2 separate regions of the Homo sapiens genome follow, and region 2 is linked to region 1. The links come from fine-mapping of genetic effects on gene expression. A gene starts in region 1. The other region holds a variant in brackets. All regions are shown on one strand. Distances are from middle to middle. Region 1 holds the start of TMOD1 (tropomodulin 1). Region 2 overlaps TMOD1 (tropomodulin 1).

What was found. PIP is the estimated chance that this variant, and not a neighbour inherited with it, causes the effect. A credible set is the group of variants that fine-mapping cannot tell apart.
Region 2: its variant is the best candidate, but not a certain one, in a credible set for the expression of TMOD1 in monocytes (Fairfax 2014, PIP 0.87).

What each region holds. Positions count from the first base shown.
Region 1 is chr9:97,499,171-97,504,539 of GRCh38, forward strand. TMOD1 (tropomodulin 1) reads left to right here and starts at 2,496. Exons shown (of 10, transcript NM_003275.4): 1 at 2,496-2,633. RefSeq lists a silencer at 2,313-3,032, an enhancer at 4,419-4,563 and a cis regulatory region at 4,482-4,499.
Region 2 is chr9:97,572,532-97,577,900 of GRCh38, forward strand. All of the region lies in intron 8 of TMOD1 (tropomodulin 1), which reads left to right. Among named protein-coding and RNA genes, the nearest start is that of TSTD2, 58 kb to the right of the region's middle. RefSeq lists a silencer at 280-519. The variant T/C (reference allele first, on the strand shown) is at 3,140.

The DNA.
Region 1 (5,369 bases):
GTTTGAGACCAGCCTGGGCAACGTGGCAAAACCCTGTCTTTACCAAAAAATTAGCTGGATGTGGTGGTGCACAACTGTAGTTCTAGCTATTCAGGAGGCTGAGGTGGGAGGATCACCTGAGCCTGGGAGGCAGAGGTTGTAGTGAGCCGAGATCGCGCCACTGCACTCCAGCCTGGATGACAGAGACCCTGTCTCAAAAAAAAAAAACAAACAAACAAAAAAAAAAAACAAAAAACTAAACATGAGGCTGGGCACAGTGGCTCGCGCCTGTAATACCAGCACTTTGGGAGGCTGAGGCGGGAGGATTGCTTGAGCATAGGAGTTTCAGACCAGCCTGGGCAATATAGCAAGTCCCCTATCTCTACAAAAAACATTTTTTTAAATAGCTGGGCATGGTGGCTCATGCCTGTAATCCCAGCACTTTGAGGGGCTGATGTGGGGGTTAAGGGGTTGGCTTGAGCCCAGGAGGTTGAGGCTGCAATGAGCCGTGATCACACCACTTTACTCCAGCCTGGCCAACAAAGCGCAAGACTCTATCTCAAAAACAAAAACAAAAACAAACAAACAAAAAACCTAAACATGAAAGGCTAAGGTGGGAAGATAACATAGGAAGATAACTTTATAACCCAGGAACAGGAAAGAGTTCTTAAACAGGACACAGAGTGCTGCCAATAAGGGAAAAGATTGCCAGACTGTATTTAAGAACACCTGTTTATCAAAATACGTTAATAAGGTGAAAAGGCAAAAGAGTGGAATATAACTGAGGATACACACACCATTGAATCTATTCAATACACAGGACTATCCAGAAGAAAAATGGACAATAAATCTGAACAATTCACAAAACAAATCCAACTGGCCAATAAATATGAAGTGATACTCAACACATTAGGATATAGGGAAATGCAAGTTTGAACCTCAATGAGATACCATTACTCACATATCAGAATTTCTAAAGTGTTTCAATTTTTGTAACTTCAAGTGTTGTTGAAGATGGGAAACTGCACTGTACAATGGTACTATAACTTTGGAAGAGTTCAGGCTTATCTCTGCCGAAGTTGAGGTTAGGCTTTCTCTATCACCCAGCACTTCCAACAGCAGGCTGTGCGCGTGGACAGGAGGATTCTGGCAAGGAATGTTCGCAGCAGCACTATTTGTAATAGCTAAAACCTGGAAACAACCTAAATGCCCATTAATAGTCAAATGGATTTTTTTTTAAACTGTGGCATATTCATACAGTGAAAAACTACAGCTGCATAAAACCACAGATTAACAACAGATTTGAACAAATGAAGACATACTACAGAGGGAAGAAAAAAAACAAGGACATGATCACCGTAAGGGTCAAGAAAGTGATCATCTTTAGAAGGGAGTTGGGACCCAGGAGGGACAGGTTGGCTTCTGGGCTGTAGGCAATGTTCTCTGAGTGACTGGTTGCACAGGTGTTCACGTTGTAAAAAGTCATGAAGCTGCACATTTATTTTGTTTACACATACAACATAACTTATGTTGTATGTTCTTATATGTTCGATTCACAACAAAAATGTTTTAAAATAATCTGAAATATTAGATCACTGCTTATTTTTAAATGTATGGCATATACCCCTTGAAAAGAGCGTTCTCATTGTGAGGACTTTAGAGAAATTCATTTTCTTGAGAAACAAAATTTGGTTAATGAGTGTTTCTCATTAATAATCTATACATCAGGATTAAGAGCTGATTTTATTAAGGTCTACCCTACCAAAAGCTTTCCCATAATAATCCAAAATAAGACGTTTTCCTATTTCTATATAAATTCCTTTGCATGAGACATTTGTTTATTAAAACACTTAAAATTGTATTTGGAATAAACCACCTAAAGTGGTTTGTTCTGAAAAAAAAAAAAAAAAAAAAAAGCCTTTTAAGAACTTGGGTCTTTTTGTTGTGGTCATTTAAAATCAGTATTTTAGACACTCCACTCGCTCTCAGTGTAGAGAGAATGTATTCGATTGCGTGTTGGAACTACGTGTAGACAAAACGATCGCGGTTAAAGCTTGCGGCTCAGAGCCCACCTGGCCGCGCTGCTGGGAAACGGACGGAGCGGCGCTTCAATCAGAGGTGAAGGTGCAGCAGCTGCTTAGCTGGCTTTGGTCCATCACTTCTGGGGACTTCAGATTCTCAAAATCTTAAATTCTAAACCCCACAGGAATGCAAATCTGCCCACCTTTTCCCACATAACTCTACCGTCGCTCAAACTCTTCCTGGTACCAGCGGGGAAGCGGAGGAGACCCAGGCAGGGGCCCGCGCTCGCTCGGCTGCAGCCCGACTCCCCTGCGCTCCCGGCCCAGGGCCGCGTCCCGACGGGGAAGTGCGCTGCGCCCGGGCGCCCCCGAGTGGAGGGGGGGGGAAGGAGGGAGCCGGCGGCGGGCGGGGCGGGGCGCGGTGACAGCCGAGCCGGGCCCGCCCCTGGCTCCCACCCCCGAGCCCACAGCTCCCGCCCGCCCGCGGCCGCCCGGGAGCTCGTCCAGCCCCGCGCTGCGCTCGCCCGCCCGCTGCCCGCCGGAGCACCGCGGCCTCCGCCCGCGTCCATCTGCCCGCCGCCCGCGCCTGTTCCGCAGCCCGCGTCCGCGCCGGCCCCACAGCTCTGCGTCCGGGTAAGCCCCCACCCCGCCTGGGGTCCCCCTCGCGCTCGCGGGGCTCCCTGCCCCCGCTCCGGGGCCTCAGCCATATCTGGGCAAAATATTCAGCTGTCGCCGCCGCCGCCAAGAGGGACTGAGCGTGGCTCCCTCTATAAATAGCTGCCGCCTCGGGTTGCCTCTGGGGCTAGGGAGCCCGGGTCTCGGGGTTCCGAGCCCAGCGCTCCCGTCCCCGCCTCCCCGCGCGCGCAGCCCTGGCCAGGGCGCCCTCCGCTCTGGACCTCCGCACCGCGTCTGTGAACGCGAGAAGGACCCGGGGTTCTGGAGGAGACGGCGCCCCGGGCTGGGGTCCTGGCGGAGGGGCGCCCCCGCCACCCGCAGGACTCCAGCGCGGCGGGGCTCTGAGCCCGCGGGGTGCTCAGCTGGGTACAGGTGCCAGCCGGAGCTGGGCTCGGGGGCGCGGCCTCTTCTCCGCCTGCAAGAGTCTGGGGGTGGGAGTGGGGGAGTAAAGGCTCGACTGGACGTGGATCCCAGGTTCGCGCTGAGAGTGTTTGGGGCAGGTGAAGTTTCCCAAACTGGGAGAGACAAGGTTTAAAGCACCACGACACGCGCTACGCGGCCAAGTGGAGCTGGAAAGAGCTTGGAGGCGGGAGCCCCAGGTTGTCGCCGGCTCTCGGCATGGCCTTGGCAATCCCCCTCTTGTTTCTGGATCTCAGTCTCCCATTTGTAGGGGCGAGGTTTGGTAGCCGCGATGGAGCTGGGAGCCCAAGCCCTGAGAGCTGCAGGGCGCGCTCTTGGCCGCCTGCGCTCCCCACACCTGTTCACCCTCTCCGGGCCTGGGACGCTGGGGTCCCAGCCGCGCACATGCGGAGACGCTGCAGAAATCGGAGACTGACTGCCCCAGACTCGATCGTATCCTGGGACTCACTAAGGCCGTCGGATATCCTAAGCCGTACAACCCTAGGAAGTGCACTTTTGGGGTGCCTATGGGCATCTCTCTGCTCCGTAGCCGGCAAAGCAGCCTGTGAGCCACGCAGCTTCAGATGCGATGAGCTGGGCAGGGGCAGTGGTTCCAGTACAGCCGCTCCCTGGCCACAGTTTCCCGGTCTATATCGGGCCTATGATGCGTCCTCCAACCTGCGCAGCGCCGCCCCCTCCTACACCCTTCACCCACCGCTACTATTACAGACCCTGTCTCCAGCCCTCGCCCTATGCCCTCAGACTCTCGGAGACGACCTGGCCCAAGCTCCTCCGTGTCTGAATCGCAGAACCAGACCCTGAACCCAGGTGCTGGGCCCTCAGCGTGAGAACCCCTAGGGCCCCCACCCCATCTTTCTTCCAGAGGTGACTGCCATTTTGTCCTCTGTGCAGGGCCGCAGAGCCCCCTGCTCAAGGTCACACAGGGCCGGTCACGCCAGAAGTTCTGCAGTCTCCCAGCCTTTCCCATCTCTTTCCGCACCCTTCCCACTGCTCAGGCAGGTCCGGGAGCTCTGGGAGCACCCGATCAATGCCCCCTCTTCTTGAATCTGCTGCTGTTCTGGACTTTACCTTGTCTGGACAATAGCGCCCTCATCCTGAAGTTTCCTTTTTGCTTCTACTTTACTTTCTGTTATGTGTTTTTTTCTAAAGCCATCTCAAAGACTTACAGAAAAAAGAATTAACGGGAAATGGAGTCAGATAATAAAGTTTCCATCAGTTAGAGCCACACAACCAACAGGCAGAGTGAAAACAAGAATACTGTCACTTTGGTGTATTATCTTTAATGAGCTAGTCTTACAAACCCGTGTTTTAGAGAGTCATTGACCCTTGAGTTTCTCCCAGCCTAAGATGAAAGCCAGTGTCCTCTAAAAATAGCCTCCGCCCCACCTTATCAGGGTCTCACACCTTCTCCCTCCTTCAGGGTAGGGCGTTTTCTTGCAGCTCAGCAAAAACAGAAAACACAAAGTAGGTGTGGCAGCTCTGAGCAATGGGAGGTGGACTGGCCTGGAGGTTAGGATATCTGGCTCCAGCCCCAACTCTGCCACCCACTCAGAGGAACCTTGAGCAATGAGGGGGCAGACAAGGTGGTCTCTAGTGGACCTGGAGTGGAGAGGGCTTAGAGTCTTCCTTGGAAGCCTTTCTAGCATGACCCATCCTGTAAGGAGGAGCTGGGGAAGGAGTGAGAGACAGTGGCTTTCCCAGGTGCCAAGGGAGGACAGAGGTGGGCAGTGTCACTTGCTGTGGAGAGACAGGAGTAGGGGGATGAGGACTGGGAAAAGACCATCAGGATTGGCAGGGATCATGAGTGACTTAGACCAGGGTATTGCAGCAGGCTCAAAAAATGAGATCTGCCAGTGACCCAGCCTGTCTGAGCCTCGTTTTCTCCTCATACAATGGAGACAACAATAGCCCCATTTCATAGGGGCTGCTTGTGAGAATTAAGTGAGATGATTCAGGGCAAGCCCTCAGCCCAGAGCCTGATATTGCAATGATAGTATTCGTTGTGGTGAGGGGGAAAGGCAGGAGCTAACAGGAGCTGAAGAAGTTCTCCACTTCTTCAGGCTGTAGGCTGAAGAAGGCTCTCAACAGAGCCAGCAACTCTTTCTAAAAGCTTGGATGAGAAAGGAAGGGAGAGGGAAGGTAGCAGGAACTGAGGACAAGGAACAGAAGGGAGGCAGGCATTCTAGGATAAAGAGTATGGCAAGTAGTGAGAAGAACCCAGGAGAGGGGAGAGAGTTAAAGGGGAATCTAAAAGGTGTGCCCATAATGAGGATT
Region 2 (5,369 bases), 73 kb after region 1:
CTGCTGACTCAGGCTCAGGAGGAGGCCACCTGTGCCTCCCCTTCAGGTGCCCCAGCCCCAGGCTGGGGGGAGGCAGGGCAGTGTGACACAGAGGAGGTGGCGAGTGGCATTTGATTTATTCCTTTATTCCTCATTCCTGGTTAGTCACCGAGGTCCTTGGAGACGGGAGCTTTTTCCTCAGTCCTGTGCTTATAACCTGTGGCAGCAAGTCTCTGTCCTTCTTTCTCCTTATACGGCCAGGGAAAGGGACTTGGGGAGTTCTGCCCAGGGTGACACGGAGCTGGCTCAGGACACAGTTTGGGAACCAGGACTTTGAAGCTGTTTGTTGACTCAAATAGTCTCTCTATCTCCAAGCAATGTTCTGTTGCCACCTGTGGTTGCGCCAAGACCATGGTGAATTGGGAAAGGGCAGAGCAGACCCCAGAGCCAGAAGGCACTGAGACAACATCTAGCCCAGTCCTCCTTTCACAAGCGGGGAAACTGAGGATGAGAGAAGGGATGGGACTAGCCTGAGGCCACAGGCCAGGTTAGTGGCAGAGCTCGGTTGGAGCTGCAGTATCCTGGCTGCACTGATGGATGGATGGGAGAAACCCTGTGGGCCCCGAGGGAGCCTGCAGGCCCGGCCCAGGCCAAGCAGGCCATCTCCACACACGGCTTCTGTGCTGCTCTCACCAAACTCTCCAAACTCCCCACAGAGCTGCTCTTCCCCAGGACCCCCAGGGCACCAGGGACCCTGCTCCCCAGGCCAGACAAGGCCTGGGGTGAGTCCCACAAATGAGAATATGTATAATGTCTGGGGTAGTGGCCAGATTCCCCACTTTTTATTCCAATATTTGACAATGAGGATGTGCTTAATATTTTGAAGAGAAGTTAAAGTAGATGGATTGTGCTGTCTTGTTTTCCCAGATTGGATGATTTGTGTCTGGCTTTTTTTACTCAACGTTGCGATTGTATCAGTTTTTTGTAGCTGTGTAACAAATTATCCCCAAATATAGCAACTTAAACAGCCTCAGAATCCTGGCATAAAACAATAAACATGTATTAACTCACCATTTCTGAGGGCCAGGAATCCAGGAGCAGTGTGGCTGGCTGACTTCGCCCAGAGTGCATGATCTGAGGTGGAGAAACTGCTTCCACCATGGCTCCCTCACAGCGTGGGCAGGAGACCTCAGCACCTTACCGTGTGCACCCGGCCTAGGGCTGTTGGAGTGTCCTCACAATATGGCAGCTAACTTCTCCCAGAGTGAGTGAGCCAAGTCAGAGAAAAAAGAAAGCCTCAGATGCCTTTTATGACCCAGCCTCGGAAGTTACACAAAGTCATTTCCACCATATTCTGTTTATTAAAAGTGAGTCACAAAGCACAACCCACACTCAAGGGGAGAGAAATCAGACACCACTTTTTGGAGGGGGGAGGATCAAAGAATTTTGCAGATATTAAGTCATCACAGTAAGAATTATCTATATTATTTTGTGTCACAGGAGTTGACCAGAAAGACCTCTGTAACTGAGAGGTGACAGCATGCTGGCAGCCCTCACAGCCCTCCCTCGCTCTCGGCGCCTCCTCAGCCTTGGCGCCCACTCTGGCCGCGCTTGTGGAGCCCTTCAGCCCGCCGCTGCACTGTGGGAGCCCCTTTCTGGGCTGGGCAAGGCCAGAGCCGGCTCCCTCAGCTTGCGGGGAGGTGTGGAGGGAGAGGCGCCGGCGGGAACCAGGGCTGTGCGCGGCGCTTGCGGGCCAGCGCGTGTTCCGGGTGGGCGTGCTCTCGGCGGGCCCCGCACTCGGAGCGGCCGGCCGACCCCGCCGGCTCCGGGCAGTGAGGGGCTTAGCACCTGGGCCAGCAGCTGCTGTGCTCGACTTCTCGCCGGGCCTTAGCTGCCTCCCCACGGGGCAGGGCTCGGGACCTGCAGCCCGCCATGCCTGAGCTTCCCCCACGCCGTGGTCTCCTGAGCGGCCCGAACCTCCCCGACAAGCGCCGCCCCCTGCTCCACGGCGCCCAGTCCCATCAACCACCCAAGGGCTGAGGAGTGCGGGCGCAGGGCGCGGGACTGGCAGGCAGCTCCACCTGCGGCCCCGGTGCAGGATCCACTGGGTGAAGCCAGCTGGGCTCCTGAGTCTGGTGGGGACTTGGAGAATCTTTATGTCTGGCTAAGGGATGGCAAATCCACCAATCAGCACTCTGTATCTAGCTCAAGGTTTGTAAACACACCAATCAGCACCCTGTGTCTAGCTCAGGGTTTGCAAATGCACCAATTGACACCTGTATCTAGCTACTCTGGTGGGGACATGGAGAACTTTTGTGTCCACACTCTGTATCTAGCTAATCTAGTGGGGAGGTGGAGAACTTTTGTGTCTAGCTCAGGGATTGTAAACGCACCAGTCAGCACCCTGTCAAAACAGACCAACCAGCTCTCTATAAAATGGACCAGTCGGCTCTCTGTAAAATGGACCAATCAGCAGGATATGGGTGGGGCCAGATAAGAGAATAAAAGCAGGCTGCCGGATAACGCAGTGGCAACCCGCTCGGGTCCACTTCCGCACTGTGGAAACTTTGTTCTTTCTCTGTTTGCCATAAATCTTGCCACTGCTCACTCTTTGGGTCCACACTGCCTTTATGAGTTGTAACACTCACCGCGAAGGTCTGCAGCTTCACTCCTGAAGCCATCGAGACCACGAACCCACTGGGAGGAACAAACAACTCCAGAGGCTCCGCCTTAAGAGCTGTAACACTCACCGCGAAGGCCTGCAGCTTCACTCCTGATCCAGGAGACCACAAACCCACCGGAAGGAAGAAACTCCTAACACATCCGAACATCAGAAGGAACAAACTCCGGACACACCGCCTTTAAGAACTATAACACTCACCTCGAGGGTCCGCGGCTTCATTCTTGCAGTCAGTGAGACCAAGAACCCACCAATTCCGGACACATAACTAGCAAAGCTACCTCAGGATGGAGCAGGTATCTCAAAGGGGGAGGAGTTCCCATCCTGGGGGTGTGTAAACAGCTGGGAGATGGAGGGAATTTTAATGTCAGTTAGGGTCTGGGACTCTGGAGTTGGATAACCTAATTCCCAGGCCTCCTTTCTGTTGTGTTTTGAAGTATTCCCAGTTGTCCATATCATCTGGGAATGGCCAGAATTGGC[T/C]CCGTCAAATGTCCAAAGTGAGATTCTTGATGTTCCTGTTGCGTCTGGCCAGAAAGGGAGCCTCAGAGCCACCGGCTCCAGGATACACCTTGTAACACCTAAGGTGTTGGTTGGTAATTTTGTTCAAGAGCAAATCTGATCTCTTTCTCATCTGATGGGTAATGCTCTGACATGGTAAAGGTGTGAGGACACACAGCTGTCACACACTGCTGAAGGGCATGCCGACTTTTACATCCTTTTGTCAGAGCAGTCTCAATTTTAATTTGAAAGCGCCTATCTTTCAACCTAGCAGTTTTGATTTCCGTAGGAAGCCTGAGGAATACCCCCTCCCTCCCCTGCCACTGCCACGTTGTTCGTAACACGAAAAAACAGAAGTAACCTAAATATCCATCTACACCAGGGCGTCCCGTGAAGCCAATAGAAGGAATAAGGTCATTCTCTACATACTGACTCTGAAAGAGCTCTGCAAAATATTAAATGAAAAAGGTGGGCTAGGCATGACAGCTCATGCCTGTAATCCCAGCACTTTGGGAGGCCAAGGAGGGAGCTCACTAGAGACCAGGAGTTCAAGACCAGCCTGGTCAACATAGCAAGACCCCATCTCTGTAAAAAAAAGTAAAGGAAATTAGCCAGACATGGTGGCACGTGCCTGTAGTCCTAGCTACTTGGGAGGCTGAGCAGGAGGATCACTTGAGCCCAGGAGTCAGAAGCTGTAGTGAGCTATGATTGCACTGCTTTGTGCTGCTGCACTCTAGCCTGGGCAACAGAGTGAGACACAGTCTCCAAAAAAATAAATAAATAAATATTAAAATAAAATGAAAAAGGCAAGTTGCAGAACAGTAAGTATAGTATGAATTCATTTAAACAAGAAACAAGTACCACAAAACAAAACAAATCCCTGTACATTTCTGTCATATACTTCATGCATAGAAACACAACTCATTGGCCATGATGGTTACTTTTTTTTTTTTTTCTTTTTTTGAGACGGAGTCTTGCTCTGTTGCCCAGGCTGGAGTGCAGTGGCACGATCTCGGCTCACTGCAAGCTCCGCCTCCCAGGTTCACGCCATTCTCCTACCTCAGCCTCCCGAGTAGCTGGGACTACAGGTGCCCGCCACCACGTCCAGCTAATTTTTTTTTTTGTATTTTTTAGTAGAGACCGGGTTTCACCATGTTAGCCAGGATGGTCTCGATCTCCTGACCTTGTGATCCGCCCACCTCGGCCTCCCAAATTGCTGGGATTACAGGCGTGAGCCATCGCGCCTGGCCCATGGTGGTTACTTCTACGGAAGGGGGTGGGACTGGGAATAAATCGGGTGAGGGAGACTCTTTCCTTTTACTCAATCTGTGTTAATATCATATGAATTGTTAATAATGTGGTTATATTTATTCACAAGTGGTTTTTTACTTCTCAAGCAAATCTGAAGGAGTATGAGAGTTCTTTCCCAACCATCCTGTCCCTGGCTCTGCTGCCCAGAGACTGTTGCCAGTCCGGGCATGACCAACCCCTTGGTCTCTCCCCCTTTACACACTTTCAGGCACAGGCAGCTCACTACCTTACCAGGCAGTTCCTCAGCGTGTGGACACTTCTAATGGTCAGAGGCATTCCTCCATGCTGAGCCAAACACCATCTGCGTGTAGTTCCTCTCGTCAGTCCTACTTCTGCCTTCTGGTCATTCTCAGAGGCACTTAAGTGAGGTGGAAACCAGCACAGACTCTAGAGCTCGCTGCCTGTATTCAAATCCTGGTCCTGCAACTGACCCATGCTAGGATTTGGGAAAAATTTCTTAATACTTCTGTGCTTCAATTTTTTTTGCCTATAAAATGAAAATAATGAGGATGGGCATAGTGGCTCATGCCTGTAACCCAGCACTTTGGGAGGCTGAGGTGGGTGGATCACTTGAGGTCAGGAGTTCAAGACCAGCCTGGCCAACATGGTAAAACCCCATCTCTACTAAAAATACAAAAATTAGCTGGGCGTGGTGGTGCTACTCAGGAGGCTGAGGCAGGAGCATCGCTTGAACCCAGAAGGCAGAGGTTGCAGCAAGCCAAGATCGTGCTATGCACTCCAGTCTGGGCGACAGAACAAGACTCCATCTCAAAAAATAACATAAAATAAAATAAAATGAAAATAACGATAGTAGTTTTCCTTAGATTGACAGGAAAAATTCCTTAGATTGATAGGAAAAAATGAATTAGCTTTTGTAAAATGTTTATGACATTGTTTAGCA